2 separate regions of the Homo sapiens genome follow, and region 2 is linked to region 1. The links come from fine-mapping of genetic effects on plasma protein levels. A gene starts in region 1. The other region holds a variant in brackets. All regions are shown on one strand. Distances are from middle to middle.

Evidence for each region. PIP is the chance, under the fine-mapping model, that this variant and not a neighbour inherited with it causes the effect. Protein levels are from antibody-based Olink assays in UK Biobank. Linkage for the fine-mapping came from a reference panel and not from the study's own genotypes, which makes the PIPs less certain.
Region 2: its variant is fine-mapped to the plasma level of the CD160 protein (UK Biobank, PIP above 0.99).

What each region holds. Positions count from the first base shown.
Region 1 is chr1:145,708,296-145,724,487 of GRCh38, reverse strand. CD160 (CD160 molecule) reads right to left here and starts at 4,989. Exons shown (of 6, transcript NM_007053.4): 1 at 4,929-4,989.
Region 2 is chr1:148,330,595-148,346,786 of GRCh38, reverse strand. MIR5087 (microRNA 5087) reads left to right here and starts at 12,233; the gene lies at 12,233-12,308. LOC124904403 (a long non-coding RNA gene) reads right to left here. Exons shown (of 2, transcript XR_007066575.1): 2 at 15,615-16,192. It overlaps LOC124904404 (a long non-coding RNA gene), which reads right to left and starts at 12,922. Exons shown (of 3, transcript XR_007066576.1): 1 at 12,836-12,922; 2 at 12,028-12,133; 3 at 2,153-2,558. It overlaps LOC124904402 (a long non-coding RNA gene), which reads left to right and starts at 1,792. Exons shown (of 3, transcript XR_007066574.1): 1 at 1,792-2,143; 2 at 2,406-2,574; 3 at 10,868-11,373. It also overlaps the pseudogene RNVU1-21. RefSeq lists enhancers at 11,376-11,485, 11,033-11,540, 11,541-12,050, 11,766-12,065, 12,416-12,495. The variant TA/A (reference allele first, on the strand shown) is at 13,332.

The sequences.
Region 1 (16,192 bases):
AATATGGGATAATTTCTATTAATATTAGGAGCAAGGCAGAGATGCTTCCTATTATTTCTGTTATTTCACATTGTTCTGAAAGTGTTTGCCATTATATTTAGACAAGAAAATAAAGCAAAGGGTATAAATATTGGAAATCTTAAGGCAAATTTATTACTATTTATATGTGATATAACTTACATCTAGAAAACCCAAGAAACTTAATTGAGAATTATTAGAAACAATAAAAGAGTATCTGAATAGGCAGTTCACAAAAGACGAAATGCAATAAAAAGTTTTTCAGTTTTACAAGTATTCAGGGAAGTACAAATTAAAAATTCAGAGTTCAGAATTTCAGAATTACCACCTGTTAAGTGAACAAAAATTTAAAAGATAAATCAAATTTTGGTAAGGGTAAGAAGAAATATGTGCAATCATTCACTCTAGGTAGAACTATACATTGTTACGGAGCTTTGGGGGAATACTCATTATATATTAACATTTCAAATGCACATACCCTGTCCCTTTGGCTATAGCTTACAGAAATAAAAGCATGAGTGTGCTAGTATAGATGTACAAGGATATTCACTGCAGCATTTTTTATAATACCAAAAAAATAGAAACAGGTGAAGGCCAGGTGTGGTGGCTCACACCTGTAATCCCAGCACTTTGGGAGGCGTGCGGATCACCTGAGGTCAGGAGTTCGAGACCAGCCTGGCCCACATGGTGAAACCCTGGCTCTACTAAAAATGCAAAAATTAGCTGGGTGTTGTAGCAGGTGCCTGTGATCCCACCTACTCAGGAGGCTGAGGCAGGATAATTGCTTGAACCTGGGAGGCAGAGATTGCAGTGAGCCAAGATCACGCCACTGCACTCCAGCCTGGGCAACAGAGCAAAACTTTGTCGCCTTCCTGCCCCCATAAAAAAAGGAAACAGGTGAAGACCCACTGGTGAGAATGGTTGAATAAATTATTGCAGATCCACAGAATAGAATGTTATGTAATTATAGTTTGTATAAAACAATAAACTAAATTAGTGTATATACATACAATTTAATAAGGTACTTATTAATACATAAGATTAAAAATTTTCCTGGATATAATTATTAGTCAGAAAATATGGTAGAAGGAAAAGTTCCATTCATTATAGCAACCAAAAAACCCATCAAATGTCCAGAAAAATGTAACAACATTCCGAATAGGACCTATAGGATACAAACTATACAGTACTATTAAGGAACATAAAAGAAAATCTAAGTAGAGACGATTGTTAAATTCTTCTGTACTTATCTATACATTTGTCACAATCCTAATAAAACATCCCAGCAGCAGCTCATGGTATGGCCCCAATGTCCTTTCCTAGCCTTGACCTCTCCTTGTTCCTTCTCCTGTGTTATCATACCTTCATGCTACACCAGAATGTCCTGGTGACTCTTGAAACATGGAATATTAAGTGACAAAGAGGATAAATGAATAAAATGACAAATCATTTTATTCAAAGAGGAAGACAAAGAAGGATTGCAATTATTCATTCAGCCCAGAATTATGGTTAAAAAGCGTAGACTCTAGAGCCAGAGTGTTTGTGTTCAAATCCTGGTCCTAAAACTTAATAGTGGCGCCGGGCGCGGTGTCTCACGCCTGTAATCCCAGCACTTTGGGAGGCCGAGGTGGGCAGATCACGAGGTCAGGAGATCGAGACCATCCTGGCTAACACGGTGAAACCCCATCTCTACTAAAAAAAATACAAAAAATTAGCCGGGCGTGGTGGCGGGCGCCTGTAGTCCCAGCTACTCGGGAGGCTGAGGCAGGAGAATGGCGTGAGCCCGAGAGGCGGAGCTTGCAGTGAGCTGAGATCGCGCTACTGCACTCCAGCCTGGGCGACAGAGCAAGATTCTGTCTCGAAAAAACAAAAATAAAAACAAAAAAAACTTAATAGTTGCATGACTCGGTCAAGTTTCTTAGGCTCCTGGGCCAGGCGCTATGCTCAGCCTTTAATAAATAGACATATTTCAGAAACACGGAGCATCTATAATGTGTCAGACACCATGGGGCACAGAGAGATCACTAACACAGCAGAGGCGGACGTTTTAGTGGTTAAATGGTCTCTAGAGTCAGACCAGGATGTTTCAGATCTGGCTTTGAAACTTAACTATCTGTGTAATATTGGGCAAGTTTCTTAATCTCTTAATGACCTATAAAATGGTGACAAAATATTCTCTTCCTTGGGTTGTGAGGGTCAAATGAGGTCACCTATGTAAATTACTTAGCACAGTGCCTGGCAGAGAGTAAGGGCTCAATAAATGATAGCTATGATTAGTTTTATGCTTTCTTATATTGGAATCAATGGACAGTGTTCCAGGCACATCTACCTGCAAGACTGTGTTTAGTCCTTATAAAACACTAAGCCATTATTATTTTCTAAAATTTATTATTTGTACGAAGCATATAGAGGCTTGGAGGGGACTTGTGACTTGCTTAAAATCACAGCTCCTAAGTTGGGGAGCAGGACTCTAACCCAAGTTATGAGAGTCTTTCTCTTGGAGTCCCCTTTGTCCCTCTCCTCACAGCCGCTCATCCATTCACGAACAGCTGTTAACACAAGAACGACTGTACTAAGTAATAAGGTCATAAAGTGTCAAGGGGCAGCACAGGAGAAATTCTGGATGAGGGATGTGGAAAGGCTGCAAGATGGCAATGAAGTTAGGCCTTCATAGTTGTTTGTGGGCTCTCGGGAGCTGGTGACTAAAGAATACGGTGGGTGAATTAAGGTGGGGAATGGGCTGAGGAGATCTGGCTTCCAGTCCTGGCTCCGCACTAGGTAGCTGTGGAATGTTGACAAGGTCGTGTCCCTTCTCTAGGCGTGTTTCCTAAGGGACTGGTGCAGCGGGATGGGAGGGGCGCAGGGTAGGGACCGCTTCCAAGGAGAGAGAGGACAGGCGGGAGGGGCTGATGCAGCTGGTCACTCCGCTGGAGTGGCCAGACTTCGCGGTGCCTAGGGCCGAGTTGAAGAAGAGCATGTAAGTCTGTTGTGGGCCCCTCACCAGCGCTGGGGGGCAGCGAGGTCACTGGGCAAGGATGCTCTGGGAAGTGACCTTGGTGCCCGGGAGGGGAGCACCCTGTTGTGATGCAGGCGGGGCAGCGCGGAGCCGGCGGCGCTGATTTCGCACTCTGGCCGCTAGAGGGCGCTGCCTTTCAGCCAAAGCCGAGTGACCCCCTACCTGCCCCGCGTTGGCCCGCGTCACTCCAGCCATGGGCCATCCAGCGAGCATGGGGGCTAGCCAGGGAAAGTCTAAACTAGGAGGGGAGATGAGGGGGTGCAAAGTTGGGCCTGGTGGGTCCTGGGGACGCAGCATGTACTAGAGCGGCACCTGGCCCTCAACAGAGGGGAGAGCGGGTGGTCGTGAGAAGTCTGGGAATTTTCCGGGCCCACTACACGCCAGGGGCGGGTCTCCCCTCTTAAAACGTTGTGAGCCCCAGCGCGGGCAGGGGGGAGGGTGCCCGTGGAGTTGGCATCCTCATCTTTGATGGTCCCCGGGGCTCCTGAGCTGCGCTGGTGGCCCCAGGGCTCGGTGCCTCTCTCAGGCGACAGCTCACAGACGGCGGGAAACTCTTCCCTCCCGCACCTTCGGAGGCGGTCCTGGAGTCTTGTGGACTCCTGGGTTCAAATCCAAGCTTTGTGTGACCAGCACATTGCTGGACCTCACTCAGCCTCACATTCCTCTTGTGTTTAAAACTACCTCATAGGAATGTGGTGACGGTTAGATGACACATAAAGCTTTGCCAGAGGTTTTCTGGGGAGGGTGGGGACAAGAGGGCAAGGAAGAGTCTCCATTTCCTCTGCCACCGGAGCCCGGATCTAACCTCTCAGAGGAGCTGGAAGGTCAGCTCTGAGCTCCACAAATACCTCTGTATACAGATCTCCCACGACACTGAAAAAGATGCCCAGAAAGATCTCATTTGCAGCTGTGAAGGGGCTTCTTTTTCAATCTCCACAACCCCAACTGCCTTAAAGTAGAACCAGACTTGTTAGTAGACAGAGGTTTGGGCTGGGGGGCCCTTGAAGCTCTTGTCTGAGATCTCAGGCTTCCTGCTCAACACACCAAAGCAGGTGCCTGACATAAAGGCGCCATGGACCTCTTTGGTGGTCTGGGAAGGCATATGGAGTCCCTTCTCAGAACAACATTTAAAAATTAATAAGATACATGGGATAATAAAGGGAACAAATTATGACAAGACAGTTGTCAAAACATTAGAAGAATGTGTGGTAGAGCAGTACACATGCTTCTTTAGATTTGACATCAGCCTAATAACTGTTGTAATTCTGTAGTAGTGCTGAGCGTTAAGGACATTTGGAGAAATCTATAAAAACTGTAATGAGATTTGAAAATATTTGTGTTTTCTATTGATGGCAAATTCTATTGTGGTTCATTGTCTACATTCATAACTGAAGCAAGTGCTGACTTTCAATTAAAGATTAGTGAAAATAAAGATGTATTTTTCCCCCCAATTCACAAATCCCATGAATAAATCTATTCACGGACCTCCAAGAGGTCCATGACGTGAACCACCTAGGACATGAACTTCCCCCGGAGGTGCCTCACAGGGCCAGCTCCAAGCCCCGTGGCACCTCCCGGCTTGTCTCAGGCCAATCCTTGAAGAGCTCCAGCAGATCTAAACTTTGGTAACTTTCCTCTGGTAATTTGAGGAATTCCTCCATTTGAGGAATGTCAGAATGGGGCCAGGATTCCTGAATGCCCATGGAAGAAAAGCGAGCATGCTGGTCTGGCGGGCAGAAATAACCTTCTCCCCAGGCTCCAGAGGGCAGAGGACATTTCCCTCCAAAAGGCAAGTTTCTCAGGGACCTCATGAGAAGCCTGTCCTCACCTGAGCAGTTCTGTCAACCATCCCATCCCTTCACCTGGACCCCAGGTCCCCAGCAGGCCTTTTTACCTCGAGACAGAAGTTCTTCTTTCTTGTTCTCAGACTGGGGGCTCACGTTGAAATGGCTCTCAGTCCTCAGATTGTCCTTGCATCTTGTTAAAACCCTATCTCTCCAGTTTCGTCATTGCTCACACTTTCATAGCTGTTATTATATTCGCTCTTTGAAAACCACAGAATGGGTTGTTAGAAGTCATAGATCTTCCGCCACCCCCACTGTGGATTTTTTTCTCCTTTCTCTCCTGCAACTGGTCCTCCATCTCCTTCTCCTTTCCTCTCCCTTGTTTTGTCTTTTTGGTGTTAGAAATAGACTAGGGTGCTGAGGGGGCTAAGAAAAACCACTTCTTAAAATTCTTTTCTTTACCCTGGGGAACAAAGATTTTGTATTTGCTAATTCATAATAAGGAAAGGACTGATGATAGAATAACTAGAAGATAAAAGGACAGAATGTCCTCTCAAGTATAAAGAAAGGTACCAAGTCTTCTCCTGAGAGTAGGTTTTGGTTAGAAGTAGGACAGAGAACACAGCTGCTCCAGGCTGAAAGGGAAGAAGGTCAGGGAGCTGTCAAGAAGGCTTGGGTGAGGGTGGTGGTGAGCAGGGGAGGCAACGAGTGGGGGCACCAAAATGGTCCTGATGTGGTGGGGGGAGGATGAATGACTGACCTTATCTTCCCACCCACCCATTTTTTTTCTTTTTCTTTTTTCTTTCTTTCCTTTTTTTTTTTTTTTTTTTGAGACAGGGTCTTGCTCTGTCACCAAGGCTGGAGTGCAGTGGGGCAATCATGGCTCACTGCAACCTTGACCTCCTGGGGTCGAGTGATCTTCCCACCTCAGCCCCTCAAGCAGCTAGGACCACAGGTGTACGCCACCACACCTGGATAACTTTTTATTTATTTATTATTTATTTATTTATTTATTTATTTATTTATTTATTTATTTAGAGATGGAGTTTCGCTGTGTCACACAGGCTGGAGTACAGTGGCGTGATCTCAGCTCACTGTAACCTCTGCCTCCTGGGCTCAAGTGATGCTCCTGCCTCAACCTTCTGAGTAGCTGGGATTACGAGAGCCTGCCACCATGCTGGACTAATTCTTGTATTTTTAGTAGAGACAGTTTCATCATGTTGGCCAGGCTGGTCTCAAACTCCTGACCTCAAGTGATCTGCCTGCCTTGGCCTCCCAAAGTGCTGGGATTACAGGCGTGAGCCACCACGCTCGGTTGATAATTTTAAAAATGATTTGTATGGATGAGGTCTCCCTATGCTGCCCCGCCTGCTCTTGAACTCCTGGGCTCAAACAATCCTCTGGCCTTGGCCTCCCAAAGTGCTGGGATTACAGGCCTGAACCACCACTCCCAGCTTCCCATCCATTTCTATTCTGTTCTGTTCTTCCTTGGTCAGTGATGGCTTGGGAGATTACAATTGTTCCTAAATTCTAGGGTTGTGCCCTTAGATGGCAGGAACATTAGTCTGAGAATTAGAAGCATTGGGCTCTAAGTCCTGCAAGGCTGGGCCAGGCCCTGTGCCAAAGGGCACAGCACACCAGGAAGCCCCACGGTTCTGGAGGAACACCTGTCATGATTGCCACCCAGTGCCAGGCTACCCAGGAATTCAAGGGTGGAGGGAGGGTGGGGGAAAATTTTTCATAACTAGTCTAGAGACTCTCTTTTCCTTCTTATTCCTGTTATTGTAGTACTCTGTGGTCCTAAAAACAGTAGGGTGCTCTGGGGTTTGAGAACTCCCAGATGGCTCCACTGAAGCCATCGTCAAATGAGACAGATATTAGAAATATTTCTTCACTCCAAGCCAGGCGCAGTGGCTCACACCTGTAATCCCAGCACTTTGGGAGGCCGAGGCAGGTGGATCACGAGGTCAGGAGATTGAGACCATCCTGGCTAACACAGTGAAACCTGTCTCTACTAAAAATACAAAAATTAGTTGGGCCTGGTGGTGGGTGCCTGTAGTCCCAGCTACTGGGGAGGCTGAGGCAGGAGAATGGTGTGACCCCCCGGGAGGCGGAGCTTGCAGTGAACCGTGATTGCGCCACTGCACTCCAGCCTGGATGCCAGAGTGAGACTGTGTCTCTAAAAAAAAAAAAAAAAGAAAAAAGAAAAGAAATACTTCTTCACTCCATCAAAGTGTTAGCTTTCACTGCAGAATGAGTCCATTCTGGGAGCCTGGGGGTTGGGAACCCATGTTGGGAAGAGGAGTGTCTCACCATCATCCTGGTCACAGGACCAGTCCACCACAGCCCACAGGATACTGGGTCCCACTGGCATAAACTGCTAAACTGGGCCTGGTCTCTGCTCTCCCAGTATCCTTATTTGCTGTCTCTATGATAGTGTTCAAACAGATGACCTCTCTGCTCTCTAAAATGGAGACTTCTCCCTCCTTGGGTCTATGAGAACCTTTCAAAGGTTGGCTCTGAGAGCACTCAGCATTCCTTATCATCCAGGAGCTGTAAAACAGTGATTATTAGCAACATGAAGAGAAGTTAAAGGCAACCAGAGTTGTGGGTGAGTGAGGTTGGGGCCACTTAAGTACTAGCTGACACACATGTATTCATACTGGTTATTGCAAAAAACCTCAAAGTTCTGCAAAGACCTCAGGGCTCAAAAGTGAATCGCAGCGCGCTTCCTTTTCACCAGCCATGTAGTGTCTGTCCATCCTGCAAACGGTTGCATGCACAGTTTTCTGCAAATGTTGCTTTTGGTCGCTTCTCACAAGGTTATTGTGTGCCAGGCCCTGCGGGGTTGACGATGACTGAATGGGGCCTGCTGTCAAGGCGAGCACACTGCTGAGAGAGGCCTGCATTCCCGTGAGATGAAGCAGAAGCAGAATGCACCAAGAGCTCTAAGTACCCCAGAAGTGAGAGAGAACCCAGGAAGCAGGGGAGGTTGGGAGGAAGAAAAGGAGACTGCCCTGTGGGCGCAGACAGTGTTAGGCACTCTGTGTGGACAATGTGACATTTAAATTGAGCTTTGAAAGAAGGCAGGATTTCAAAAGGCAGGGGTAGAGGAACAGTATGAACCAGCAAGGAGCAGGGACATATGGGGCTGGTTTGGAAGTCAGTGAAGCAATGAGGTGGCTGAAATATAGGCTGCCTCCTGGTCATCCACAGCCTCCCAAATATGTATCCTGTGGGCCTTTCAATGTCTAAGGTGTATGAGTCCAGTTACACAATTTAGCAACTGATAGATTGTTTTCAAGATACTAATAGTAAGTGCTCGACATTAAGACAAAGAAAAACTGAGTGGACATTGAATTGTATTTCCATCTTACTTCTGTAGAATTATGGGGTTTTGGAAGCAGAAGAGACTGCAGCAGTCTTCCAGTCCCTGGAAGTGTGCAGACACTTGCATGCCAGTGTTTCCCAAACTTGAGCGTGTATTAACATCACCAGCAGGGCATCTTTGAACAATTCGGATGGCTGGGCCCAGCTGCAGAGTTTCTAATTCAGGGACTCAGGGCAGGGGTGGGGGTGGTCCAAGAAGTTGTATTCCTAACAAGTTCCCTGGTGCTATTGTTGCTGTAATGCTCCTTGCGAACTGTTCAGGGTAATACCTCTTGCATCCTCTGCTTGAATCTGTCTACTGTTCTGCAGCTCACTACCACCCAAAGTATCCACACAATATCCCTTGTGGAATACTTCCAGTAAAATTCTTCCTTGTGCTGCTGTCAGTCCTGCCTGCCTTTAACTTTCAATGAAGTCTGCTGAGGGCCCCACATGGGAAATGTCTATGGATGGCAGGCAAGTCTCAGGCACATGAGGCAGACTGCCTGGATTTACGTCCTGACTCCACTTACTACGTGACCTTGGATAAGTCATTCAACCTTTCTGTGTTTTCCTCAACTGTGGAATGGGGATAATAATTGCAGTTATATCACAGAACTGCTGTTTAGAGTAAATGAGAAAGTGTGTAAAACAATTGGCATGGTGCTTGGCATATAAAAGTACTCAGGTGTGGGCTAGTATCATTACCTAGTGTTCTTTTTCTTTTTCTTTTTTCTTTTTTTTTTTTTTTTGAGACAGAGTCCCACTCTGTTGCTCAGGCTGGAGTGCAGTGGCACAATCTTGGCTCACTGCAACCTCTGTCTCCTGGGTTCAAGTGATTCTTGTGCCTCAGCCTCCTGAGCAGCTGGGATTGCAGCCACCGCTCCCACGCCCAGCTAATTTTTTGTATTTTTTAGTAGAGAAGGGGTTTCACCATGTTGGTCAGGCTGGTCTCAAACTCCTGACTTTAGGCGATCCACCTGCCTCGGCCTCCCAAAGTGCTGGGATTACAGGCGTGAGCCACCGCGCCTGGCCAGCATTACCTAGTTTTCCTTTCTACTCAGGAGTCTATCAACTCTCTGAAGAAAGTTAATCATTCTAAAGTTTCTCCTTTCTGGGCTAAATATCCCCAGCTCCTGCAATTATTTCTTACAATTATTTTAGTGCTTTCACGGTTCCAATATTTTGTTTGTCCTTTCTCCTCTTCTCTGAACAGAGTCCAGTTTGTCAGTCTCCCTTGTTAGATACATGGCTCAGACCTGCTACCTGCCTCGGCTTAGTCCAAGTCTCGTGTGTTCACTGCAGCCAAAGGTCACTTTAGCTTTGTAGCTATTTCTACATTTCACTGGACTGTGTTAGACTTCCAGGCCACGAAGGTGCCAGAGGCTACACCCGCATGTAAAGAGTAGAGCTCATTCTCCTGTCACATTTCCCCTTGTTGCTTAGCATGTGTGAGTTTGGGGAGTGTGGGTGAGGGAGAGTAACTCTGACCTTGGCCCAGTTCAGGGCCTACTGTGATGGTTGGTGAGCAGCCCCAGTGGCTGTGAGGGAGCACATTTGAGGCTCCAGGGGCTGGTGCGAGGCCCAGCTTCTCCCCTGGAGAAGGGTGAACTGACACCTAGCACAGCCAACAGTTTTCTGGAAGGAAACCAAGCCTCAGAGCCAGAGGCACATACAGCAAAGCTGTGCAGGCATCTCAGCCCCTGTCCCAGCCACTGTCACTGCTGGCCTTTAGCCCAGGGTCGTTGGTAATAGAATAATGATAAAATATGGAGAGGGAGTCAGGGCTGGGTTTTTTTGGTTTTGCTTTTTTTTTTTTTTTTTTTGAGACAGAGTCTCGCTTTGTCACCCAGGCTGGAGTGCAGTGGCACAATCTCAGCTCACTGCAACCTCTGCCTCCCGGGTTCAAGCGATTCTCCTGCCTCTGCCTCCTGAGTAGCTGGGACAACAGGCGCGTGCCACCATGCCTGGCTAATTTTTGTATTTTTAGCAGAGACGGGGTTTTGCCATGTTAGCCAGTCTTGTCTTAAACTCCTGACCTCAGGTAATCCACCTGCCTCGGCCTCCCAAAGTGCTAGGATTACAGGCACGAGCCACCACACCTGACCTCAGGGCTGTTTTATTGTGGAGACAGAGGTGGCAGCTTCAGGGGTTTGGGTATCAAGATGACAGGGCAGGCCTGGAAAAAAATGTCTCTCTCAGCCTCTATTCTAATTTCCAGTCTGTAGTGAATGGCTCACCAGGTACTCTCAAGTTATGTCTTTTAAAACAGAAGGCATAGAAAAATGTGCCCAAATTACTTTGGTGTCCTATAGAGCCTGTCTTGTCCCTCTCCGGTCATAGAGGACACCAAGTTCCTTTGCGGCCAGGCCTCCTCCTAAGGGAGACCAGGCCTGTGGGGCTGCTCCGAGAGCTGCCTGCAAGCCACACTATGTGAATCCCAGTGCAGGGCTCCTCTGAAAGGCACCTGCGAAGCTGTCTTTGGCTGAAGAAGTTGGGGAAACTGGTCTCCCACACTTGGCAATGGCCATTCTTTCTCAACCTTCCCTCAGGCACGAAGAGTCCCAGGTCTTGATGCCTCATTCTTCCATCAAAGATTTAACATTTACCCTCCCTGGTATTTTCAATTGATCCAGAGGAAATGAATAGGTAGTACTTAGCAAAGGGTGCTTAGCAAAAAAATACTCTGCTGAGTGGAATTGCAGGCACTTCTACAGTTGTCTGGAGGCACAGAGGCTGCACTCTACCCTAAGGCAAACTGGATGGTGCCATCCTCATGCTGACTTGGGCTTTAGAGGAGAAAATGTACTTTCTTCAGTGGATAATAAAGACAATCATTGGTCAGGTGTGGTGGCTCATGCCTGCAATCCCAGTACTCTGGGAGGTTGAGGTGGGTGGATCACTTGAGGTCAGGAGTTCAAATTCAGCCTGGCCAACATAGTGAAACCCTGTCGCTACTAAAAATACAAAAATTAGCTAGGCGTGGTAGAGCACACTTGGAATCCTGGTTGGGAGGCTGAGGCAGGAGGATCACTTGAACCCAGGAGGCAGAGGTTGCAGTGAGCTGAGATCATGCCACTGCACTCCAGCCTGGGTGACAGAACGAGACTACATTTCCAAAAAAAAAAAAAAAAGACAAGCATTGCTTTTTCCTTGGCAAGAATTCTTTCTCTTTTTTTTTTTTTTTTTTGAAACAGAGTTTCGCTCTTTCACTCTGTTGCCCAGGCTGGAGTGCAGTGGCGCAACCTCGGCTTATTGCAACCTCTGCCTCCTGGGTTCAAGTGATTCTCCTGCCTCAGCCTCCCAAGTAGCTGGGACTACAGGTGCCCACCACCACGCCCAGCCCATTTTTTGTATTTTTAGTAGAGACGGGGTTTCACCATGTTAGCCAGGCTGGTCTCGAACTCCTGACCTCAAGTGATCCACCTGCCTCGGCCTCCCACAGTGCAGGGATTACAGGTGTGAGCCACCGCGCCCAGCATCCTGGCAAGAATTCTAAGCAACAGAGTAAACAGGATGGGCACAATTAGTTTACTTTCCAAGCTAGAATGTCAGGGGGCACTGGAACCATTCTGGGGAAGGTAATACTTTGAGGTGGAATGTCTTTTTTTTTTCTGAGACAGAGTCTCGTTCTCTTGCCCAGGCTGGAGTGCAATGGCATGATCTCAGCTTATTGCAACCTCCACCTCCCGGGTTCAAGCAATTCTTCTGCCTCAGCCTCCCAAGTAGCTGGGATTACAGGCACCTGCCACCACGCCCGGAAGATTTTTTTTTTTTTTTTTTTTGTATCTTTAGCAGAGACAGCGTTTTGCCATTTTGGCCAGGTTAGTCTCGATCTCCTGACCTCAGGTGATCTACCCACCTTGGCCTCCCAAAGTGCTGGGATTATAGACATGAGCCACCGCGCCTGGCAGGGATGTCTTTTCTTTTTTTGAGACAGAGTCTTGCTCTGTCGCCCAGGCTGGAATGCAGTGGCGCAATCTCAGCTCACAGCAACCTCTGCCTCCCAGGTTCAAGCGATTCTTCTGCCTCAGCCTCCCTAGTAGTTGGGATTACAGGCATGCACCATCATGCCTGGCTAATTTTGTATTTTTAGTAGAGACAGGGTTTTTCCATGTTGGCCAGGCTGATCTTGAACTCCCGACCTCAGGTGATCCGCCCACCACGGCCTCCCAAAGTGCTGGGATTACAGGCGTGAGCCACCGTGCCCGGCCGAGGGATGTCTTTTAAATCAAGCTACAGACTTGGGCCACTAGGCTGTTCATGGTTCCTGATTCTTTCTCACTGACCCTTTACCTCTGCATGGGATGGTCCCCAGAGGGATGAGGTCAGGCTGAGGCTGTAGCCTTGATATACCTGACACTTTCCTTGCTCTTCTCCTGTTCCCCATTCTGGACCTTTGGGGGCCCTTGAGGGTCTGGCTTTTTAAGGCAGAATCCAAACTGCCCAAGAACCACTGATTGTTTCTGTATCTCTCAGAAAGGGGCAACCAAATACCCTTTTAACCAACACTCCAAGAGTGCCAAGACCAGACCTTGGTACATGCAGGAACCCAGAACATGGCATGTTCTTGTTCTGTGCCTTTTTCTTATGGTGGAAAAGGATTGTGTATTCTGACCCCTCATCTGGGAAAAGGAAGAACGAGTGAATTACTACTCGGATATCCTTGGCAGCCAGCTTGCAAGTGTTAATAATTCATAGCTCTCCAAGGATCCTCAGGCCTCCCCTGTCCTGACACTTGGTTACTGAAAAGAACTAGAAAGTTCCAGTCAGCAGTCATGTGGGGCCACAGTGTGTGCTGCAGCCAAGTGGCATTGCCCCGTCTCCAGCCTGTCACCCACACTGCTATAGAACATTTATCTCAGTCTTGCATCTGGACTCTGGCCTAATAAATTCCTCCAAAGGTATGCAGAGTACACAGTCGCCTCTTAAGGTGGGATGAGGCCAGAGTAACAGAGAGAGTGGAAAGGGAGACTGTCATAAATATTGACTCTAGACAGGGAGAGAAAACCACTGGAGCTTAAAATTCCAGGCTCAGAGTAAGTTAATGAGCTACTAAAAAGACAAGGTAGTAGGACATGCATACTAGGACAATCAGACCTGAAGTTGGAGGAAAAATGTGAGGATACCCACTGAGCCAGGCAGACTGGTATAGTAGAAAGGGCATTGGCCACAAAAGCAAAAGCACAGAGTTTTTAGCCATGTTTCTGCCTGAGGGGGCTTTGGCTAAGTCACTTCACCTCTCTGAGTCTTTGTTTTATAATAAAGAAAAATTGAGATGATACAATTCAATAACAACAAAAACAACTTGATTTTAAAAATGGGCAAGCAAATTGAATAGACATTTATCTAAAGAAGATACAAATGGCCAGTAAGCACGTGAAAAGATGCCCAACATCATGAATCATTAAGGAAATGCAAATCAAAACCACAATGAGATGTCACCTCAAACCCATTAAAATGGCCATCAATTAAAAAACAAACAAACAAAAAACAGAAAAGAACAAGTGTTCATGGGAATGTGGTGAAATTGGAACCTTTCTATGTTGCTGGTGAGAAAGCAAAATGGTGCAGCCACCGTGGAAAACAGTATGGTGTATGGTGGTTCCTTAAAAAATTAAATGTATGATCCAGCAATTCCTTTTCTGGGCAAATACCCAAAAGATTTGAAAACAGGGACTTGAACAAATATTTGTACATCCATTTTCATGGCAGCATTATTGACTGCAGCCTAAAGGTGGTAGCAATCCATTCCTTGATGGACGAATAAATAAAATGTGATGTATGTACACAGTGGAATATTATTCACCCTTCAAAAGGAAGGAAATTCTGACATGTGCTACAACATGAATGAACTTTGAAGACATTTGCTAAGTGAAATAAGCCAGTCACAAAAGGACAAATAGCATATGATTCCACACATAGAAGGTGCTTAGAGTAGTCAAATTTGTAGAAACAAAGTAGAAAGGTAGTTGCCAGGGGCTGGGGAGGAAGGAATAGAAAATCGTGTTTAACGGCTACACAGTTTCACTTTGGGAAGATGAAAAAGTTCTGGAGATGGATGGTGGTGATGGTTGCCCAATAGTGTGAAAGTACTTAATGCCACTGAATTGTATAATCAAAATGATTAAAATGATAATTTTTTTGTTATGAATATTTTACCACAATTTAATTTTTTTTTTTTTTGAGACAGGGTCTCGCTCTGTAGCCCAGGCTGGCGTGCAGTGGCATGATCGTGACTCACTGCAGCCTTGACCTCACAGGCTCAATCAATCCTCCTGCCTCAGTCTCCTGAGTAGCTGGGACTACAGGTGCACACCACCACACCCAGCTAATTTTTGTATTTTCTGTAGAGATGGGGTTTCACCATGTTGCCCAGGCTGGTCTCAAACTCCTGGACTCAAGCATTCCTCCCGCCTCAACCTCCCAAAGTGCTGAGATTATAGGCATGAGCTACCGTGCCCAGCCAATTTTTAAAAATTGGAGAGATCAAAGCTTCCTGACCAGATTGCTCAGGTGTGCCACATGTAGGTTATTGGCATGCCAAGATATTGATCCCTTTCATTTTTGAATAGATCATGCAGAGCTGAGCACAGCTGAAATCCTCAGGCAGGTCACTGGAAGAGCTTCTTCTTACTCCAGTATGCTATACACATATTGTAATGTTTAAAATTTCAATATAATTTAATTATTATTTATACAGAATAAGTGCATGAAACAAAAATGCATAGCTCGGTAATTAATCTTAAACACCTGTGTAACCTTCACTTAGCTCAAGAACTAGAATATTGCCAGCATACCAGAAGTTAGGGTCGTGTGTTACCACCTAAGCAGGAATCCCCCAAAGTTCTGCCCTATATTTGGACATCATGTAAATGGAATCCTAGTATGAAAATGAATGAACTACAGCTACTCACAGCAACGTGAGTGAACCTCACAAACATCATATTGAATGAAATAAACCAGAGACAAAAGGAATACACCAGGCCTGTAATCCCAGTACTTTGGGAGGCCAAGGCGGGAGGATCACTTGAGGTCAGGAGTTCGAGACCAGCCTGGCCAACATGGTGAAACCCTGTCTCTACTGAAAATACAAAAAATTAGCCAGGCATGGTGGCGGGCACTTGTAATCCCAGCCACTCGGGAGGCTGAGGCAGGAGAATCACTTGAACTCAGGAAGCGGATGTTGCAGTGAGCTGAGATTGCACCACTGCATTTCAGCCTGGGCTGTAACAGAGTGAGACTCCATCTCAAACAACAACAACAACAACAGCAATTTTTAAAAATTTCTAAAAACCATACAATAACAACTATTTATACATGATGAAGGTGAGACCCAGAGAGTTAAAAATGAATTACTCTGGATCAAACACCTGGGAAATGGGAAATGGTGGCGTCAGAATTGAACTCAGGTGTTCTTTCTTTCTTTTTTGTTTTGTTGTTTTTTTTTTGGAGACAGGGTCTCGCTCTGTCATTGAGGCTGGAGTGCAGTGGCATGATCACGGCTCACTGCAACCTCTGCCTCTCAATCAAGTGATCCTCCCACCTCAGCCTCCAGAGTAGCTGGGACTACAGGCATGCACCACCATGCCTGGCTTTTTGTACCTTTTGTAGAGACAAGGTTTTGCCATGTGGCCCAGGCTGGTTTCGAACTCTTGAGCTCAGGCAATCTGCCCGCTTTGGCCTCACAAATTGCTGGGATTGCGATGAACTCAGGTGTTCTGATCCTAAATCCAGATTTTCCCATTCTACCTTCTGCTTTGAAAGATATAGAGGAGGCCAGGAGGGCTTAGCCCCGAGGTGGAGGAAGATAAGCTGGTATGAGGAAGCTGCTCAATGTCATTTTAAACCGTTTATCCATGGGCTCAGGTCATGTCTTTGTTGGGGGCCAAGCCAAGGCCCAGCAAAGACAAATGGCTCTTCCAGTGTGGGTGGAAGAGGGGTGAGGTCACCCAGTCCTCGGCCTGTGGTTTGCTTTGCCTCAGTGCCGGGAGCAATCTCTTGC
Region 2 (16,192 bases), 2.6 Mb before region 1:
TAATTCCCTTCCCTCTATCAACCTGTGAAACTGAACAAACGGCTTATCTGCCCTCTGTGTGCAATGGTGGGACAGACATAGAAAAATGATTCTAGCGATTCTTGTTCACAAAGGGGAAACATGGAAGTAACAAAGAAGTCACTGATCCAAAACTTTTTTGAAATTGGGCTGAGCAAAGTCCAGCAGGAATTTCTTGGTTAGGATCCAAAACCTGGAACTAACCCTCTGTGACATGGGGCTTGCCTCTGGGCTCTGCCTTTCTTTCTATCTTTATAGAAATCATTTTATTTTCCTTCTTCTCCTACTCCTTTGGTTCTTCCTCTTTCTACTTATGGCAGCATCCTCCCCTTAATCCTTGGCACATTATCCCCAGCAGAATTGGTCAAATGTTGCCCATGTCACGGTCCTGACCATCTCCATGAGGGGCTGTCCTTGTGACCCCCTGCTCCCCTGGGACCCTCTTCACTGACCTGACCTCTCTGTCATGATTGCTTCCAGCTGACCTGGCTGGTTTAGGAGAAAACCTAGAATTGTGGAGACCCAGAACCAATCTCTGCCCTGTCTTATCTCCAGGAGAGGAAGAAAATAACAGGTATCATCATGGAGAAATGACCCACATGAGGGCTGAGACTCTCCAGCAGTTTCAGGAGAGGAAACTCCCTGAAGAATGGAGGAGCTGAGATCCCAGGCTGGGAAAGCAGGCTTGTGTTAAACATTACTTAATCTTTATGTGCTCCCTGCCCCAATCTACCAGCCAGTGAATGACAACTGACTGAGCATAAATACTAGGACTGTAGAACGGTTATAAAGCGTTTGTCCAAGGAAAAGCCCTTTTACTTTATTTGTTTTCACAGTGGAAATTGCTGTTTTTGATCCAAAGTTTTCTGAAACACAGCAGTGAGTTCCTGGAGGGTGAGTTAGCTGCTTTAGACCTGGAGGCTGAGGCCAAGGCTTGTGTGGTCGATCTGCTGCCACCATGTGGTGAGGGAGCCTGGGAGAGTCTTAGTCTTTCTTGGCTTCACTTTCCTCCTCAGTGAGTTAGGGGCTTATTGTTCCTCTCTGAGGTCCCTTCCTACTTTGTTTTCTCTGAGTCTCTGAGGAACTGAGATGGTTTTTAATGCCACCCAGGACCTGCAGCTGAGACCTGACTCTGTGTGTCTCCTGCAGGAGCCTGAGCTGAGTCCCTACACTGGAAGCCCAGAACTGAGGGAACAGATGAAAGAAAGAAAGTCAGCAGGTTTAGGGGATGAGAACAACCCACAAAGGACAAGCCATTGGTAAATGAAAACCAAAGAAGGGGGAAATAAGGACAAATTGGGACAGAAGCCTCAGGGGAAATGGGCAATGCCTATCATCATCCAAGCCCTCAAGGAGTAGCGTGAGCTGAGCAGTGGGGACTGAGAGAGAAATTTACTCCACAGGAGTCTCCTGCCCCTGGCCAGGGAGAGCCACAGGGTGGATCAGAGCTGGTTTATAGTGAGGGGGCAGCAGCAACTCCAAGGGGGGAAGATGCGACCATGAGCCCCGCCCCAGACCCAGGAGCCTTGACCTTGGGGCTGCCATAGCAGTGGATGCTCTTCAGGTCAGTGTGGGTTAGAGGGAATAACCATGCTGGGAGAAGGGTTGGAGACATCCATTCTTACATAAAAAGCTCTGCCCTAGGTCAGGTGCCAGAGTAAGCGTCCCTTGCTAGTATACAAAGCAGTGATACTTATAATATTCTTCTGTACTTACAGTTGAAGGAGGTTTCCAAATGATATCTCATAAATATTTATTGGGTGTTTAATTTTCTTTACATTGTGTTAAACACTTGGGATTCAGATATTAATGTCTCCCCAAAGGAACTCAAGCCCATGAGAGAAAGAACAGAAACATAGCATTTTAAGAAAATATGGAAGTTCCCCCATATTGGGGTGTTGTGGCAACCCAGAGAGTGGGAGTTTAGGTGAAGACATTGCTCCTAACGACAGGGGGAACCATAAGAGGACTTCTTCAGAACAGACTCATTTTCCTCTAATGTCCCACAGAGACGGATCCTGGGGCATGAATGGTGTAAGGCAAGGGCCAGTCTAAGGAAAGGGATTTGCTGCATCCTGGGAGAAATCTCAGCATCCCTGACAGGATATTTGGGACAGGAATGCAGGTGAGAGGAGGTTTGCAATCGCTTTTATTCAATAATTGATGAACACTCTCCTGAGAACTCCCTCAGTGCTAGACCCTGAGCTGGGAACCATGAACACAGAGATTAGTAAGATATGATCTCAGCTTTCACAGAACTCTCAGTCTAGTGACCAGCGATTCCTGAGAAGTATGGTGATGGTGGGTTCATTGGAACCAGTGGTTCATGCTGCATGGAGATTACCTCAGTGGATGGCCTGGTCTCTCTTCTGTTTTTTTTCAAACAGCTGAATGACCTGTCCTGGGCCAGTGAACCTGGACTTCAACCAGATGTCAGAATCTCAAGGTACAACCAACATTTTCGCTCCATGTTGGGTCAAAACAGTTAACACAGCCAAGATATTCAAGGTTTCAGTAGATACTGACTAAGTCCTGGCCAGCTGTGAAAAGAAAGAGGTGAGTTTAACAAGAATTCTAAAATTGTCCTTGACATAGTAATCACAGATGATCTATCTTCTGTCTACTTTTATATATATATATATATTTGTGATGGAGTTTCGCTCCTTTTGCCCAGGCTGGAGTGCAATGGCATGATCTCAGCTCACTGCAACCTCTGCCTCCGGGTTCAAGTGAATCTTCTGCCTCAACCTCCTGAGTGGCTGGGATTACAAGTGTAGGCCACCATGCCCGGCTAATTTTCTATATTTTCAGTAGAGATGGACTTTCACCATGTTAGCCAGGCTGGTTTCAAACTCTTGACCTCAGGTGATCCACCCACCTCAGCCTCCCAAAGTGCTGGGATTACAGGTATGAGCCACCGTGCCTGGCCTCTGTTTGGTAATTGAAATGCTTTGCAGACTTCAAGATTCACCTGTGTCCAAAATAAATTCTATATCAGTCATAGTACTAGCATTTAGAAATTGTGTATTTTATCCTCTAATTATAGATTAAATACCTAAGGTGGAAAGGAGTAAAGCAGCTTCCATGAATGTAGTGAGAATGTAGGGGGGTTAGGGACTAAAGTCCTGCCTTAGGATTCCCCAGCAGTTGCCAGTCACAATTTTTGTACTCTAAGAAACAACAACAACAACAATAACAACAAAATGACAACCTGTTTTGTTCCTCTGCTTACCCTATCCAATTCTCTACACCATAACATCTCTGCTTATCAGGCAACTTGGATTCTCAATTTGTTGAGCTCAACAAGTGCATTTCCTGAGCCCCTGTGAGTAAAGCATTATGCTAGTTATGGCGGGTGATACAGAGGAAGCACAGAAGAGTCCTTAGTGACAAGAGCTTAAGATTTCTGCTCCCAGCTCAGCCTGAGTTGCCTGGAGGTGAGAAAATCAGTAGCCGACACACAGGTGCATTCTGGTGAAAGGGTCGATGATAATGAATAGTGGTTCTGACAGGGCTGGGCTCTTAACCTCCCAAAGATGCTGGTCAAACAGGATCTGGAGGATCTCTGCACATAGTGTCTGACTACTGACTGTCATAAATGAATGTCGCCAAGTCTTGGCCTGGATCCCCTCCCTTTGTTTCATTTCACAGATTACATGTTGACAGCAGGAAAATCAACAGAAAGACCATGAGGCTAGACTCCAAAAGACTTAGTAATGCTGCTGGGTGGGCCATGAATTTCTAAAAACTCGTGAAGGGCCTTCTCAGAAGTGAAGTTTTAGGAAATATAAAATGCATAGCTGGGATACATTATAGTGTACTGATAGAACAAATATTGGATATAGCAGCATCTAATAACTTCTGGAGGAAAAAATATTTTTCACATTACTCCAATTATGGCCTCATACGTCAAAAAAAAAAAAACAACAGCAACAACAACAACAACTAAGAGAACCACTAACATCCATTGGTTTTGCAGAAACAGGATACCCTTAGTGTACCTAAAATTGGAAAAATGGCTCTGCCTTTAGGGCCATGGAATGAAACAGACTGTGTGGTAGTTGACACAGGAAGAACAGAGTGGAGTTTATAACAATGGCCACAAGACAGTGAAGAAAATGCTTTGGGGTTCTTAAGCAGCAGACGAGGTGACTCAGAGGAATGTTAGACAATCGCAGAAAAGCAACTTTAGCAACATTTTCAACTCAGTGGGCACTGCATACTTAGTCCATGCTCTGCATCCATTCTTTCACAGTCTGTCCCTTCATCAACTTGGGCCTACAATGACTTTTCTGGGAGAGGAGAGGGATCAACACAACAGCATGCACACACCTGAAATAAAGAATGGATTTCTAATTTTCAGATTTTAGTCTCTGACCTAACCAAAGAAGTGACTACCATAGATGTTAACTATTAATAACATAAATGATGCTACTAAATATGCAGATCTTATATAACAAGGTAAAACAGCTTAAAAAATAGATGGTAGAACTGTAGTCCAGGGACGCTAATAGAAGTGACCCATAACATTACATCATCTCCACTTCCAATAACAATCAGGTAAAAGAAGGAAGGAGACTGGCAACCCAATGCACAGAACTATATATAACAGGCATACTATTTATTGGTTGGTTATAAACCAGTGGGAATAAATCTTTGTATATACTGACTCTTGGTTTATGTCACTGAGGCACAGCATGGAACAATAGAAACCGGACTGTAAGATAAATTCATTTGAGTAACTGGACTTTTGTAAACCATTAGACAGACATTTGAGAAGCCAAATTTAAAGCTGTTTGTGAGCCATGTTAGCCTATCAAGGTTGAAATTCAGGAGAGATACATAATGACAAATAAATGCTTTTGGTTTTTTGTGACACAGTGATCTGATGCATTGGGAATGTGATCTTGTGAATCACTCAGGTGAGCAAGCCTGACATGAGTGGGCATAAAGGTCAGTAACTGAAGAGGTACCAAAATGTGCTACATGTGTCAATTGTGACCTAAAGAACTGAAGGCATTCACCCTCCCTTGAAGTAATGAAGCTGACACAGCAGGGGGCTGCAAATTCCACTGCAGATCAGGGTCTTGAAGCTGACATACTGAAGAGTGGACTCTCACTTGAGATACAGAGTAGGAACTACTGTTTCCTATGGCTACTGAATATCCCACAAACTAATCTCCTCAGCATGCCATTATTAATTATTTTAAAGCTCTTTAAGGTCTCATTTTATAATAGATCACATCAGAAGGAAGACTAATAAGGATCAGGTACAAACTCATACTTGCTGGACATATCATTGCATATCATCCCAAAGTTTCTGGCACTACATAATACTGGAGTAAATTCTTGAATATTAAATTTTAAACTAAGGGAGAACATTGGCTTCTAAATTTTACAACTATAGTATTGCAGCTAAACACAAGTGCAAATGGGCAGCCTTATAACTGCATGAGTAATCTTAATGAAAACTTATTGGCAAACATACAGAACATTTCACATGCATTTATCTACAAAGTACAACTCTTCCCAACCTCAGAACTTGATATGCGTTAGGACTTTCCTCTCCCTTGGGCTGGTGATAAAGGTCCAATTGAAATGAGAAAGATTCTTCATGCCTGGTAAATATGAAAGTTTCCAAAGATACTGCCACTGGCCGATCAAACCTGAATTCAAAAAGCATTTGTTTCTAGCAGGATATAAGATCAATATGCAAAAATAAATTGTATTTATGCAATTGCACGGCAGAATTTAAATGTAAAAGGAATATCATTTACAATAATGTCAAGTGTATAAAATCCATAAATGTGAATATGACTGAAAATTAGAGCATATTTCACAGAGAACATAGTGCAGGCCTAATAACTGGAAAGATATTGTTTGTTCATGTGTAAGAATATTGTTGAGATGTCCATTTCCCCTAATTTGATCTATAAATTCAATGCAATCTGACTCAAAATTTCAGCATGCATCGTTGGTAGAAAATGGCAGCTGATTCTAAAATTAACATGAACTAGCATAACAAAAATGCCTATATAACGAAGAGCAAAATTGGAGGGCTAGCTCCACCTGATTTAAAGAACAATCACAGAGTTGTAATGGCCACAACAGAGCTTTGGTATGTGATCAATTAAATGGATCAAAAGAAAATAGAGTCCAAATATAAACCAATACATATATTGAGAACAGATTTTTGACAATCTTAAAAAAGCAATGTATTTAAAAATACATAATATTTCAACAAATGATTGAGGATTTTCTTTTTAAGCAATTGATGTAACATATTTGTAACTATATAAAAATAAACAAGTAGAAAAAATTGAATTCATGTGTCATATCATATATAAAAATTAGTGGTTACAAGAGGCTGAGAAGGAGATAGGGGATAGGCTGAGAGAAGGAGATGGGCTGAGAAGGAGACAGGAGAGAAGGAAGAAAAGGTATTGGTTAATGCATATAAAATATAGTTAAATAGAAGGAATAAGTTCTAGTATTTGATAGTATATACAAAAATAACTTCTTGTATATTTTAAAATAACTAGAAGAGAGGAATTGGGATATTCCTAACATAAAGAAAAGATAAAGTTTTGAGGTGACAGATATACTACTTACACTGATTTGATCATTACAAATTGTATATGTTTATCAAAATACCATGTGTATCCCCAAAATGTGTACAACTATTATACATTAATTAAAATAATGAAAAGTACATCTTAGACAAATTAACAATGATTCCAATCCGATCAATTATTTTTTCTGACCACAATGGTATGAAACTAAAAATTAACTACATAAGGAAAACTGGAAAATTCAAAAATACATGGAAATTAAACAACATAACTCTTAACAACTGACTGATCAAAGAACAAATCAAAAGGGAAATTTGATTGAGGCAAACAAAAGTGAAAACAAACAACATAATCTTTTGGAAACAGCAAAAACAGCTCTAAGAGTCAAGTTTATAACCATAAATGCATACATTAAAAAAGAAGAAAGACTTCAAATAAACATTACACCTCAAGAAACCAGGAAAAAAACAACAAAATAAATCCAAAGTTCAGTGAAGAAAGGAAACAACATATCGATGCAGAAGTCAATCAACTGAAGAATAGAAATACTACAGAAAAATAAACAAAACTGAGTTGTTGGGTTTTTTTTTTCCTTTTCCTTTCTCTTTCTCCCTCTTTTTAGGAGAGACAACATCTTACTATTCTTCCCAGGCCTACTGGGAACTACTGGCCTCCAGTGGTGATGCAACGTAGGCCTCTCACACCCAAGTTGTATTTCTGGAAAAAGTAAAATTAACAAACACTTGGCTAAACTAAGAAAAAAATAGAGAAGACTCAAATAAATAACATCCGAAATGAAAGTGGAGGTATTACAACAGAAGCCTCACAAGTAAAAAGGATCATAAGAAACTATCATTAACAGCTCTATACCAACAAATTGGATAACCTAGAGTAAATGGATAAATTCTTAGAAACATACAAACGACTAGGATTGAATCAAGAAGAAACCGAAAGCCTGAACGACCAATAACAAATAAAAGGACTGAAGAACCTCCCAACAAAGAGAAGCCCGGGACCAAATGGCCTCACAGCCGAACTCTTCCAAACATTCAAAAAAGAATCGGGCGCGATGGCTCACTCTTGTAATCCCAGCACTTCGGGAGGCCAAGGAGGGCAGAGTACCTGAGGTCAGGAGTTCAACACCCTGGCCAACATGGTGAAACCCCGTCTCTACTAAAAAAATACAAAAATTAACCGGGGGTAGTGGTGCGTCAGTGTAATCCCAGCTACTTGGGAGGCTGAAGTGGGAGGATTGCATGAGCAAGGGAGGTTGAGGCTGCAGTGAGCTGAGACTGCATCACTGCAATCTAGCCTGGGCAACATAGCGAGACCATGTCTTAAAAAAAAAGAAAGAAAGAAAAGAAAAGGAAAAAAGAAAGAAAGAAAAAGAAAGAAAGAAAGAAAAAGAAAGAAAGAAGGAAAGAAAGAAAGAAAGAAAGAAAGAAAGAAAGAAAGAAAGAGAAAGAAAGAGAAAGGAAGAAAGAAAGAAAGAAAGAAAGGTATTGCTGATGAAACTGTAGCCTCTTTCACAGCTCATCAAAAAGCTATTCATTCACTGGCTAAGGTTGTACTAGATAATCGCGTCACTTTAGATGATGTATATTTTCAAAGACACTATTAGCCTTATTTAAAAATGGGTAGAACCTGGGCTAGGTGGCTCATGCCTGTAATGCCAGCATTTTGGGCAGCTGAGGTGGGTGGATCACCTGAGGTCAGGAGTTTGAGATCAGCCTGTCCAACAGGGTGAAACCCCGTCCCTACTAAAAATACAAAAATTAGCTGGGCACAGTGGCATCTTCCTGTAGTCCTAGCAACTTGAGAGGCTGTGGCAGGAGAATCGCTTGAACCCAGGAGGCAGAGGCTGCAGTGAGCCGAGATCGTGCCACTGCACTCCAGCCTGGGAGACAGAGAGAGACTCTGTCTCAAAAAAATAAAAACAAAACAAAAACAATGGGTAGATACAGCAGCACTTACAAGAGTTCATAAAAGGAATTGTACATTGTCAACTGATAGTGTGGAGAGAGCAGCCCCCTGCCCACCTGGTTGTGATCTATGCACAACGCTTGCCCACAACCACCTTCTCCACTTAGTACAACGCAGCCCAGAACACCAAGGGGAGAGCCCCAGCAACAGCAGCCTCCGCAGCCCGCTTTAGATGATAGATTTAGCTGAGCAGGGAGGTGGATGTGTGGTGTTTACAACCTCTTGTTGCATATACATAAATAAATACTTCCCATGAAGTAGAACCTCATCTAGAAAAAATTAGAAGTCATTTGGCTACAAGAAATCATGAAAGAAGAACTGGGATGTGATGTTTTCCCTGATGTTTTTCGTTGGCTCCCTAATGGAATAGGTTCCCTTACTGTTCTGGCATACAGATTCTCTTTGTGATTCTCATTCTTGTGTGAATTATATGTGTACTATTCAAATAATTAATGCTATATATTTCCTGCTTCTGAGAAAACTGATTTTATGGTATCTGAAGACTAGAAATGATTCAACGAGTGATAGCTGCAGACTTAACTGAGGTCTCTCTCTCCTCCTTTTTTTCTTTTCTTCTCTTTTTCTTTTTTTTCTACTCGGTGTCACCCTTTCAATTGGGCTTTTGGGTGCTCTTAAAAATTCCTCAGTGAGGCAGCTCCTTTCCTCCCCTGCCCTCACCGTGGGAAAGACTATCTGGGAATGAGCTTTCCTGGCAAAGAGGGACACGTTGGCTGAGCTTTTGATCATCAATGCTTTCAAGAAGAAAGATTTTTTAAAGAATTTTTATCTGAGGAATGTGAGCCACTTCACATGATCAGAGAGACATTAAATCAAGACAGCAACCACTTTCTGCTTCCTTCTTTTTGAGCTATGTATTCATCTGTTGAAACTGCTTGCTATCACCCCAGGTAGCTGTAAATTAATCTAATAATGCCACACCAAACACTGTATCCCACACCCTATAACAAGGGATAGCCAAGCTCTCATCAATGCTATTTCTGAAAGCCAATGAGAATTCCTGACGGGCACCTTTCTATCAGCCCATTGTGCATCCCCCCCTTTTGACTTTTAAAAACCTGCTTGTGACAAAGGCCAAAGGGAGCTCAGATCCAAGGTTCTTTGGGTGTGAGTCTTCCAGGCAGCTGTCTTCACATTGGCTCAAGTAAACTCTAGATTCTATTTTGTGATTCAGCCTCTTTCTTTTAGGTCAACATGTTCAGCAACAGTAGAATAAATAGATAAGTTGGCCGATATTCATACAAAGGATTGTGCACAGAAACAAATAACCACATGAGTAACATGAAAAATTCATAGATGTAAGACTGAGTGAAAGAAATCAAACCTATGCCTCTGCTCCTGAGACCGACTTTGAAAAAATTATAACTGGGACAATTATCACAGCAAAAGAGATCTGACCTAACTGCTTCCGTCTTGCTTCTAACATCCAAGCTGTCTTTGTTCTTTCCTGGGCACAGGCCAAAATAACTTTGAGAGGAACTTAGTTTATGGTTTAGCTGTGAAACAAAGATGATAACAGCTCTTTCCCAAAACAAACCCCCTTCCTGCCTGGGGACTAGGCTGCCTTTGCAGGACTAACAAATTAGCCACAAGATTATAAATCATGGTTTAGGATCATGCAGCCTCTAGCTTACAAGATTCTAAACCTCCCCAAGTTGTTCCTGGGGATCACATCACCATTGTAAAACCTAAGATCGGTTTGTGAGATATTTTGTAGCCCTGCACTCGATGCATCAGCTGGCACCACCCAGATGGATAAACCAGCTCATCTGATCCTGTGGCCCCCACCCAGGAACTGACCCAGCTCAAGAGCATGCTTTAGCTCCCTGTGAGTTCATCTCTGACCTGTCCAATCAGAACTCCCAACTCACTGTCCCCCACCCACCAAATTATCCCTAAAAACTCTGGTCCTAGAATGCTCAGGAAGACTGATTTGAGTAATAATAAAACTCTGGTCTCCCACACAGCCAGCTCTGGGTAAACAACTTTCTTTATTGCAATTCCCCTGTCTTGATAAATTGGTTCTGTCTAGGCAGCAGGCAACAGGAACCCACTGCGCAGTTATACTCCCCCAAAACCCACTACACACTTTATGATTTGATTTATATGAAAGCAAAGGACAGGAAAAACTTGCCTGATAGATTTGGAGTCTGTGGAGTATTGTCAGAGTTTGGGATTGTATTCTACAAATTAAAAGTAATCAGTTAAGCACCTCAAATAAAATTTCCCCCAATTTTTTTTCTCCAAATTTGGACCACTTGTTTCTCTCTTTGCAGAATATAAAGTGCTAACATGAGGTAAGTGCTACGGTCTACAGAAGGCCATGGAAGAGATGACAAACTCCAGCACCATGCCTGAGTGTCCAGTGTGCTCTGCTGGGGCAGCATATTTGTACATTGCTGTATTTGAAAAAATCCTACAAGATTCATGAAATTGGACCACCGTCTTTATAGCACTACTAATGGTAAAACAAGTAAGGATGGCTGGTTTGCAGTCATCTGAGCAGCATCTCTAGTTTCATAGATATGGTTTCTCTCTGATACTGAACGGCTTCCAATTTCAAGTAGAATGCTACATCAGAAGAATAACGATGGGAAGAGAACTAGTTTCTTGTGTAATCCTACATGTTTTAGTCTGCGCATTACAAACCATTATTTGAAGAAGGGTGGACAGCCTCCAGCTGTCTGCCAAAGAGGTCATCGGCAACACAGGCTAAGAACCGGCTTCTGGGCGGGCATGATGGCTCAGCCTGTAATCCCAGCACTTTGGGAGGCCGAGGCGGGCGGATCACCTGAGGTCAGGAGTTCGAGATCAGCCTGGCCAACATGGTGAAACCCCGTCTCTACTAAAAATACAAAAATTAGCAGGGCTTGGTGGTGTGCTCCTGTAATCCCAGCTACGCAGAAGCCTGAGGCAGGAGAATCGCTTCAACCCTGGAGGCGGAGGTTGCAGGAAGCAGAGATGATGCGACTGCACTCCAGCCTGGGCGACAGAGCGAGACTGCGGCTCAAAACAAAAAACTACAACAGAAACACCTGCTTCCTTGGAAAGATTGGGGCGGGGAAGGGAGGGAAAGGAAGGAAAGGCAGACGTCACTGTCCCCGCAGTCTCTGGCAGCATGTTGGTCGGCTGAGTGGCAGAAGGTGGGGCGGAAAAGCAGAGCCGGACGGGAAAGGCGCTGTCAGTGACATCACGGATAGGGCGACTTCTATGTAGATGAGGCAGCACAGGGGCTGCTGCTTCGCCACCGGCTGCTTCGCTACGAAGGAGTTCCCGTGCTGTGGGAGCAAGTCCAGGACCGCTGTTCAGACCTGAAAGTCCCAGCTGTGTGTCAAGGCTGGAAGGGCTCCGGGGTGCGCGGGGCAAGTGACCGTGTGTAAAAAGGGTGAGGCGTGTGGAGCAGTAGCAAGACGGAAACGTGTGAACTCCTAATTACCTGGCATCGGAGAGGACGTTATGAAGGTTGTTTTCCCAGGGCGTTGCTTTTCCATTGCACTGTGGACGTGCTGATCCTGCGATTAACCCAAATGGGAGAAATTTGGCTGCACAATAACAGTGGAGAACTGCGTTAGTGCTTTCCGCTGAAATCTTGCAGTGCAAAAAGTGAATTCTGCAGGAAGGGCTACTCTTAGTTTCTACTTAGCTTTCTACGGGTTTGTAGCTTTGCTGGCATGTTAAGTGTTGTCCTACAGTCGCAAGCATAAGAAAGAGAAAGTATTGTGTTACTGTCCTCTCCGCCCCTATCATGAGCTTGCTTAACACAAGCTAAGTGGCCCCAGTGCTCTTCTCTTCCCTTTCCACGTGGGGCTGCTTTTTCAAGATTGCTTCATGGTCTCCAGTGTCTTGGGTTCTCACCCTATGTGAAAACCTTCGTGTTTTTTCGTAGCCCCCGGAGTCACCTTTCACACAGCCTGTGCTTCTAACCGCAGCCCCCACAGAAGTTTGTAGGATTTCTGTGCTAGCGGGGAATGTGTTCTCACCTCCTAGAGCCAGGTAGAAATTCTAGGCAGACGGGTGCTGTTCTTTGGGATGAAAGCAGTGTCCCTGTTCGGTTGTAGACACAACACGCTTGCTTTCTGTAGGGGAACGGCTCTCCCCGCGCCCAGGTGCCCTTGCTTATGTTCACCGAGGCCTTCAGGTCAGAACCGCAGTCTGACTTGTCGGCAGAATGTGTCGGCGATCTACCCCAACTACCCAGCAATAAAATGGGACACATTACAGAAACATGAGATAGCATGGATTACCTCAAAAACATCATGCCGAGTGATGAAAAGAGGGCATCCTGTGTGGCGCCATCAAGGTGAATTTCTAGAACAGGTAAAACTAACCTGTATAGTGACAGAAAATACATCATTAATTGCTGGGGCCAGGGGGAGGGCGGGACTGACTGCAAAGGGCACAAGAGGACCTTTTAGAGTAATAGTCATCAAACTTGAAATGGATGCATTGTACCATAGGCAACTCACACCTTAACTTGGTTGTAAAAAGGAATAAGAAAACCACTCCAAATCTTAATGTCTTCTCCTTAATTTAATGTATGTTTGCCCTTAGAGGAGTCGTTTAGACAAATGTCTTTCTAACTGTGCTAGGGAGTTCAGGAATTCCTTCATTTCTGTTTCTGTCTCTTTGTCTGCAGTTAAGTTCATGCACTATTAAGTGGAATATTTGTAAAATAAAAATAGAGTCTAAGCTCAATTTTATAAAAGCATACATATATGTTTTTATATATTTTTATATTTT[TA/A]AATATAGAATTATATATACTATATAATTTTATATATTAAATATATATTTTATATATTTTTATAATTTTATAATTTTTTCAGGCATATATATCCTTCTTTATTTTTTTTCTTCTTTTTTCTTTTGTGGGGCCTGGGGGGAACAGTCTAGCTAAAATATACTTTCTTCTCTCTGTAGATATAACACAATACCATGACTCCAGTGTTGCCCGAATGTTATGAGAAGTTATTTTTGAACTTAAGGTGATCAAAAATTTTACATATGTTTACATTTTCTCTACTGTTAGTACGGTCTATGCTTAGCATGTATAAATTTTTTTTAAAAAAGACAATAGCTTAAAAATGATTCGGAAGAAAAATATGTAGATATGTTAACAGTAGTTAATTCCAGGAGGTGTGAATATGGATGACCAGTTATCTTCCTCTTTATGAATTTTTTATATTTTTAAATGGAAAATCCTCAATGACCTGGAAGTGAATGAACAGATTAGATTTGGAAGGGGTGTAGGGCAGGTGAGAGGAAAATGTTAAGGGAAGGACAAACCCAGTTCTGGCAGGACCATGTTTAAGTTGAAGGTTTCTGGGGAGAAGTTGTTGGGATAAGAAGGATATGAAGGAGGCAGGAGAATCATGAAAATATTTAGGACAGTGTATTGCCTGTCTTATCATTCCTCCTCCTTTTGTGTTTCTTCAAAAGAAATACAAAGACTTAACATTTCTTTTGAAGCATGCTTACAATTTGTGTTTCTCTTTTATTAGTGTAACTGCCTGGTAAGTTTATTCTGCCCATTGCCCAGATAAGCCAATGGAGCTGAGAACAGCAGGCTTTCCACAATAGAGAAAGAATTTAACAAATGCAGATGCAGCTGAGGGACCAGGACAGGGGTTTATTATTACTCAAATCTGCCTCCCCCAAAATTCAGAGACTAGGGTTTTTGTTTTGTTTTGGTTTTGGTTTTTGGTTTTTGGTTTTTTGTTTTTTAAGGATAGTTTGGCAGGCAGGGGGCTAGGGAATGTGCAAAGCTGATTGGTTGGAAATCACAGGGTGTAAGAGCTTGTTTACTTGCACTGAGTCAGTCCCTGGATGGGGCCACAGGACCAGATGAGCCAGTTTACCAGTCTGAGTGGTACCAGCTAGTCCATCACAAGGCAGGGTCTGAAAAATATCTTAAACACCAATATTAGGTTTGACACTAATAATACTATATATAGGCACAATTGGGGAGCTTAGGAATCATGTGACTTCTGGCTGCACGGCTCCTGAGCCATAAATTCCAATCTCGTGCCTAATTTGTTAGCTTTGCTAAGGAGGTCTGATCCCCAAGAAAGGAAGGGGTTTGTCTCAGGAGCGACAATCATCTTTGTTTCAGAGTTAGACTAAACTAAACTCCTCTCATAGTTAGCCTGGCCTATTCCCAGGAATGGACAAGGGCAGCTCAGAGATTAGAAGCAAGATGCAGTCAGTTAGGTCAGATTTCTTTCACAGTCATAGTTTTCCTATGTCAGGTTTTTCTCACTGTCATAATTTTTGCAAGGGTGATTTTGTTAGGAGCAGTATAAACACAGTGGTTCTGAGAATGTCTTCTGGAGCCAGGCTGCCTTCACTTCAAATTCCTGCTTTCAAATTCTTCTTTGCTGGCTGAGTGACCCTGGACAGGTCACTTAACATCTTTGTGCATCTCAGTTTTCTCATATGGAAGATGAAGGTGATGATGTGACCTCGGCCTGAGGTAAGGACTAAATGAGTAAACATATGCACACTCATCAACTGTGCCTGACATGTGGCACTTTGTGTTGCAGGCACAGTTGATGATGTGCATGTGTTTCTCATGTGCATGTTAGCTCTTGTATTTTGCCTGCAACACTGCACAAAGAGCAGATGTGATGAAAACCAGTTGTACTGAAGTTACAGCAGTGATACTTTCCAATGGCCATGCACCCTCCCAGGGAGACTGCAGCAATCCTCTCACCAGCAGTAACCTCCTGGGCTGGGAGATCCCAGGAAGGCCCCTTAATCTCCAGCAGGTTTGACCCTCTAGGAGCTTCAGGGAATGAGCTAGAGAAGTATTTCTATCTGGGGGGAACTGGGAGTTTATTAGCTCATCTGTTCAGCTCATCCAAAGGGGAATAATGATGCAATTTCTTGCTTCAAATCTGCCCCAGTAAAATTCTTATAGTTTTACAGTCAAAGACATTTGTACATGTCGGGGAGGAAATATGACTTTTCCTCACCCAGCCTAGGTTCACTGCTGAGACCCTCACAGCAAAAGACAGACTAATAAGAGAAGAGCAGATGTATTTATTTAATGTAAGTTTTACATGACAGGAATGCCTTCCAAAGGAAATGAAGGCCCATGGAAACAGCTAAACCTCAGTTTTTTGTTTGTTTGTTTGTTTTTTAAGAGTAGTTTTATTGAAGAATGGATAGTCATGGAGAAGTATGATAAGACAATAAAAGTATGATCTAACAGTAACAAACTGGGGAAAACGGGGCCAGGCCTCTGTGTTCAGGCTCTTCTCTGTGTCCCTGTGTCTTCAGACTCCAGGATGCACCTTTCCTCTGGGTACAGAGAGGGAACATCTCACATAAGGGTCTATAATCGACTTCAGGAAAGAAGGGCAGGGGGAGGGTGACAGTGACCTTCCTGCTTCTATTGTTTATTCAAATTCCCTTAACATAAAATATTCAATACCCCAAGATGTTATATTTTGGGGTAGCATGTCCTGAACCCCATCATGCACATGCAACAAAACCAAGAATATTTGAAGAATGATGACTATAAAACATTTAAATTCAAAATACAATTGATGGCCAAGTGGGGTGGTTCACAGCTGTAATCCCAGCAGGGAGGAGCAGGAAGG